Homo sapiens: one gene and its partner. The protein of the gene in region 1 interacts with the protein of each later gene in a biochemical or structural test. Each region holds a gene or a part of one and is shown on either strand. Other genes may lie near its edges.

Evidence for each region.
Region 2: the proteins of TFE3 (region 1) and E2F3 form a complex in vitro, tested with the Homo sapiens proteins (one study listed by BioGRID).

What each region holds. Positions count from the first base shown.
Region 1 is NC_000023.11:49,028,200-49,031,085, forward strand, and holds the end of TFE3 (transcription factor E3), read right to left. Parts: intron 2,403-2,886; coding exon 1,959-2,402; 3' UTR 527-1,958; downstream 1-526. UniProt on the Homo sapiens protein: Transcription factor that acts as a master regulator of lysosomal biogenesis and immune response.
Region 2 is NC_000006.12:20,408,265-20,412,084, forward strand, and holds part of E2F3 (transcription factor E2F3), read left to right. Parts: intron 1-3,820.

The DNA of each region.
Region 1 (2,886 bases):
CCTCTGCCTTTCAGATATTTGTCTTTGTCCTTTCCACCATCTTAAATACCTCTGTTGTCTGCCAGGAAATATCCTCATAGACTTCTTTATCAGTTTCAAAAGTGGATTTGCAAGAAAAGCTTCTTTCCCCCTCTGCCCTCAGTGGCATTTTTCAATCGAGCCCTCACTCACCTGACTTTACTGTTTTACCGCCTCACCCATTTACAGGCTTGCATATCTTCAGAACAGTTCAATTCTATTCCTCAGCTTCTTCAAAGACCAAATGGAAGTAAGAAGCAGCATGTTCTGACTAACATCCCTTTAGAGAAATAAATTAGATGAAACACTTGCAGCAGTTAAAATTGTGCCTGGTGATTGGTCTTTAAAAATACTGTCTTTTGTTTGCATATTGTCTTCCTCCATGCCCTCTTCCTTTCTAAATTCTTTTATCCATCCTTCTGGAATCTGTTTCTCCCAAGGACTTTTATCCCTCTTGGCCTGCATGGGCTATGTTCACTGCACAGTGTAAAACAAGGACAGGAGACTCTTTGCCAAAGTTAAAAGCGCATCAAACACGCCTAGCTTTTATTATTTTAATCACAAACCTATAGACCCCTCAGTATACCCTCCATGGGGCCTGGCCCCAGCAATCCAAAGCTGACAACCTTGGGTGTAGGTATGAGGGGTGGGAATGGAGGGGGGAGTGTCTCTTGATAACTCTGAAATGGGGTGATTCCTCCAAATGAAGAACTGGGTGGGGAACAGAGGTTGGGGTGGCCTAGATTCTCAGTATGCGGAGCAATAAAAAAATCAGATAAACAAATGAGGGGGTACAATATGCTTTTACAACCCTCCTCCAAGCTTCTGCCTTGCTGGGGGAAGGCTTCCAGTTTTTCCTGGGCTGGGGAGGTCCCAGGATAGCCCCTTCCTTCATCCTCTTGCCCTACATGTTGAAAAAGAATACTGAGGTACTGGTTCTGGTAACCTGAACTCAGTCCCCCACTAATACCCATCACCTTCCCAAACTGCCCCTCAAGGAAGAAGGCAGGACTCTGCCCAAGGGTGGGGGCCTCTCACTCCAGATATAGGTCTGGAAAATTCATCCATGAAATTTCATAATCTGTCCCCTTCCCCAAGAGCAAGGTTGGCTCAGAGCCCTCCTAGGTTAGGTCAGGTTGGTCCCAGGTTAAGGCAGGGGAGCTTAAGTACCACTCCTCCCTGCAGTGTGGAATGCTTAGATGGGATGTTGCTGAGGGACAAGGGTGGGGCTGTGATCTCCACAAGCACTAGCGGTGGCCTGGTCCTACTGATTCTTTCACACCTGAAATACCTGTGCTGGGCTGTTCCTATAGGGAAGGGGTGGGGCCTGGCTCCTCCATTCCTAGAAGGCCAGGAGAGTTCCCAGGGGAAGGGGCTGGGTCTCATCCTCACTTCTGTTCCTTGCCTGGGCAGAGCAGGGCAGGGTTCATGGGGAAGGGGCAGAGCTTAAACCCCCAGGGCTGGGACCTCCATTACTTGACTCCTCTTCTGTGCCAGGACGGACTAGACTGGTGGTTCCAAGACAAAGGATGGAGCAACATCCTGACATCTCCCTTTCCCAGGAGACCTGGCTAGGACAGTCCCTAGGGGACAGGGTCGAGACCTCATCCTGTCTCCTTCCCTCACCTGGGCAAGGATGAGTCCCACAGGGGCAGGGGTGAGGCTGTGATCCCCAGGGGGCAGGCCCTGATCTCATGTCCTTCTCCAGCCTTCTCCTTCTGAAATACCTGCACTGGGCGGTTCCTTTGGGGAAGGTGCAGGGCCTCATCTGACTCCTCCTCCTTGCCTGATTACAGGGGTGGGGCCTGATCACATCTCCTCTTCCCCCAGGATACCTGGGCAGGGCAGTCTCATGGGAGGGTGGGGGAAAAGGCGGGGCCTCATCCTGACTGGTCCTCCTTTCCTGGGTGGGAAAGTCCCAGGGGAGGGGTGAGGCCTGATCAGGACTCCTCTTCCATGCTGAAGCTGCTGCGGCGGCTGCTGGCCTTGGAGACAGCAGGGGACACTGAAGAGAGCAGGGGATCGGAGGCAGCCCGCAGTGGGGACAGGGCACCCCCCGACAGTCCTCCCACCACCCCCTCCTCCTCCTCCATCAGAATGTCCTCCAGCCCCAGGTGGAAGGGGTCTCCCAGGTCCCCCAGGTGGTCGCTGGGAAAGTGCAGGTCCAGAAGGGCATCTGAGGGCGGTGCAGGGGGCTGCTGATGGGGAGCATTCTGGGCAGGTCCCCCCCCTACATGGAACGTTGCTGCGCCTGGCCTGCCCTCCTCCTCAATGTCCAGCTGCTCTGGCTTGAGGCTGTCAGAAGCCGAAGTCGTGGCCAAGGAAAGCAGCCCTGGAGTGGGAGGTACTGGCAGGCCATGGATCTGGGCCTGCAGTTCTAGTTCCTGTAAAAAATAGGGGTTGGGTGCAGGATAAGTAGGGTTCAGAGTCCCTCAGAGGCAGAGGAGTATAAAGGTTGAAAAGGGTAGGTTCCCTGGGTTGGAATTCAGCTTCTGCTACTCACTAGTTCCAAAACTTTAGGCAAGGTGCTTAACATCTCTGAAGCTTCAGAGTCGCAAACTGTAAAGTGGGTATATAATAATGGCCCCTAGGCTGGGCGCGGTGGCTCACGCCTGTAATCACTTTGGGAGGCCGAGGCAGGTGGATCACCTGAGGTCAGGAGTTCGAGACCAGCTTGACCAACATGGAGAAACCCCATCTCTACTAAAAATACAAAAATTAGCTGGGTGTGGTGGTGCATGCCTATAATCCTAGCTACTCAGGAGGCTGAGACAGGAGAATTGCTTGAACCCGGGAGGCGGAGGTTGCGGTGAGCCGAGATTGCGCCATTGCACTCCAGCCTGGGCAACGAGCGAAACTCCATCTCAA
Region 2 (3,820 bases), on another chromosome or scaffold:
AGAAAAGTTATACCACAGAAGGTACTAAAAAGCAACAACTGCCTTTGGGGACAGGAAACTTACAGAGTGGGGATTATTATAGAGGGATAACATACCGAGTTTCTATTTCAATAAGAGGGAAATTGGTTTATATTCTGTTCACACTTGTTTCAAACCCTCTCCTCTAAAAGCAATGTGTTTTTGGAATTCAAGGAATGTACGTTCTTTCCCCAACCTTAACTGGGGGTCAGTCTTATGGCCACCATATTTGTCTACAATATAACTTTTAAAAAATATAATTTTTGCCCTCAAATACTCTCCTATCCAATGCAATGTAACTTTGAAGGAGAAGTGATGAAGGCCACTGGTTGCCAGATTGTATCACACAGCCAGATGCACTTTGCTTTGATGAAGAATCTAAGTGATGCAGGCCCCCACTTAGCTTTGTAAACTAAGGCAGGGGTTTATGTCAGCTCGAGGTAGAAAGCAGTGAGAATTGGCAGCTGATGGAATAGAAAGGGGACAAAAAGAATAAAAAATAATTGACTTTAGTCTGCTTTCCATTACCGTAGCCCAACTCTCTGGGGCCATTTGTGTGGTCTAGACAACATTCTTAGAACTTGACAGTCCCTGAGAACGATATTCTAGGTTGGCATGGGCAATAGTTGGCATTTACACTGGTCTTGGAATCATAACATTTGAGAAGTGTAAGGCACAAGAGTCCTCATCTGCCCAATCCCCTTCATGTTGCAGGTGAGGAAATTCAGGCCCAGTGCTGTTAAATTACTTGCCCAAGGTCACAGGTCTTTGCTAGTGGCAAAGCCAAAACCGAAACGGGAGACTCTTGAATTCTTAGAAGCCTCATTCACCAAGAGAAGGTTAACTGTGTCTCATGAACCCTATATGGGAAAATTGGGGTGTGTAGGACACATTTTAGATTTCCTTCAGGAGTGGTTACCTTTTTTAAAAATGCGCACATAAAGAAGTGTCCTTTAAACAGTTGGCTGTGGGGGTAATGACTTATTCCCAAAGATACAAAATAAGCAAGGCTACTTTGGATGTTAAATGAAAGGGAATTATTTAAAAAAGGAAAGAATGACTCTTCAAAACGTGATAGTAATATTTTTAAAGATTTATTTGATATTCGCAAATTTGTCTTCTGTGGTTATATCAATTCTGTTGCTCAAAAAGTGACACATGCTTCATAGAGAATAGAATCTAAAAGGATTTTTGAGACTTTCTTGGGGAGAAGGACACACAGTGCCCCTCTGGTAGTAACGGAGTTTTGTCCTGGGCCACCAACATCCTGAGTGACTGTCATGCTTTCAGAGGTCCCCAGCCCTTGCCCAGTAACATTGAACAAGGTGTTCTTCCTCTGTGGTTAGCTCCAAGATTTCTGGTTTAGCAAAGTGGCTAATCAGTTAACTCTTTAAGAGGAAATTGTCATTCCTTTAGCCAACGCTAATTTCCTTAAAATGCCTTCTTTTCCTTTTTGGAACTGAGAAAGCTTAAAAATAGAATTGCTTCAAGCCCTGAGGCCTGAAAGTGAAACATAATCTAACGTGGCTGTAGTGCACTGACTCGTTAGGGGCAGCGATATATGGCTTATCTGTAATCCACAAACCAGAAAGGTGCCCAGTGTAGATACGGTCTAACAGCCAGTGAGCATTAAGTACCAACTGATGAGAGTAGTAATCAGTGAAGCTGATTTCCTCTGGAAAGTTTTTTGGCGAGTAGAGTTTGTCTTAGAGAGTGGAGGATTTGAATGCCTCTTGACTTTCTGCTGAGGAGAGCTTCTGCCTGCTCTAGTTTTTATGATCCTGAAGGGTGGTAGCTCTGGACTCTGAGAATGATGGGCAGTGAACTCAGGGTCTGTATATTTCGTTCCACTCTGCTCTTCCCCATTTCTGATGCTTTGGGGGCTCCATTTCTGATACATAACCAGAGCAGCATCCCTGAGGCCCACACTATCTCCTGTGTGCCTTTCTGCATCTGGCAGTCCCTTGGAGAGAAGGAGGCTCATGTGTTTATAACCTGCACCCTGTCCTAAAAGGCATAGTGAGGGGCAGCTGAGTATAAGGTCAGGCCACTTAGCCTGGAGCCAGAGTGCCTGTGTTCTTGTTCTGGCTCTGCTCACTAGCCCTGTGACTTTGGGCAAGAAACTTGGCCTCTATGTTTTCATTTCCTCATCTGTAAATTGGGAGGAATGATAGTACCTACCTTATGGGGTTAGGAAGTTGCAATGAGTTCTTATTTGTAAAGTGCTTAGACCAGTGTCTGGCACGTAGGAAGGATTATGTGTTAAGTAGAAACATGGTATAATTGCCCTTCCTTCCACAGGCATCTCATGGGCTGTCCTTTTGTGATCCATTTTCTTGGTTTGTTTTTGTTTTGAGACCAAGTCTTGTTCCGTTGCCCAGGCTGAAATGCAATGGTGCAATCTTGGCTCACCGCAACCTCTGCCTCCTGGGTTCAGCCGATTCTCCTGCCTCAGCCTCCCCCGTAACTGGGATTACAGGTGTGCGCCACCACGCCCAGCTAATTTTATTTGTATTTTTAGTAGGGACGGGGTTTCACCATGTTGGTCAGGCTGGTCTCGAACTCCTGACCTCAGGTGATCTGCCCGCCTCGGCCTCACAACGTGCTGGGATTGTAGGCATGAGCCACTGTTCCTGGCCTGATCTATTTTCTTAACTAGCCCTTAGTGTTCATTTCACCCCATTGCACCTCTCTAAAAATGGTGATGATGGGAAGGAGAAGTAAACCGTGGAATGGCTCTCGCCTAATGCAGTCTTTAGGGTCTAGGGTCTTTGTATTTCTTTATAAGCTGCCCATTGACTTGGGAAAAAGAACTGAAGAATAAGCTTCTTGTAGTAGTGCTATCAGTAGTGATAGTGTCATGAATAAAACCTTTATTTCTGTGATTAAATGTATTAATAAAGTGACACTACTAGCATGAATGACACTATTAACATAATTTCAATCCTGTACAGTAAACCATGGCTTAAGACTGAATGGCAAGAATCAGGGTGTCTGAGCTGCTGGGCCCTGCCAGACTCGGAGCCCCTGCCAGTGTGTGTATATCAAGGCAGGGCGGGGGGTTGTCTTGCTCTCCAGAGGCAATGGAACCTGCCTCTAGGCCTCCCTTTTCCCTTCTCATCTCCTCACCCCTCCTTTTTTATGTTAGATCTATTCCTACCCCTTCCCCTTCGCCTTGCCCTCTGCCTGGCTCTTAGAAGGAAGCAGACTTGCCACCTTCAGTGGCTGCTTCCCGGACTTACCAAATTAATTACCACCTTTTCCTGCCATCAAGGGATGGTGAAATCTTGCCTTTTCGGTCTTGCTTCCCATTCCTCTGCACTCGGCTGCTGCGACAGTGTGGTGCTGCAGGCACCGCAGATTTCCCTCTGGTGTGTTTGCTCGTAGCTTCTCCCTCTCCACCTTACTCCTTTTGTTGCCCTCCTCCCACTGGCCCATTGAGGCCCACATCAAGGGAAGGCGTAGGCACAGCCTCCCCCAGTTTCCCAGGGGCTTGGGCCTCTCCCTTCCCTTGGGTTACTGCTTCTTTCCTGTAACACCTCATGGTCTGCCTCGTAGCCTAATCTTGCATGTTCATGACTTACTCCTCCTCCAAACCTGTAAGCTCCAAGAAATCGGTCTGGCTTGCTTTTTCATCATGTGGTCCCTGCAGTGCCCACTACACTATAGGCTCAGCTACCTGAGAAGAGGCATTTTCATTAGACACCTTCCATGTGCTTGGTACCCCATTAGTCCTATTGGGGATACAAAAGAAGTATGAGGTGTGATCCGCCCACTCTTGAGTTTACAGTCTGTTGAGGAG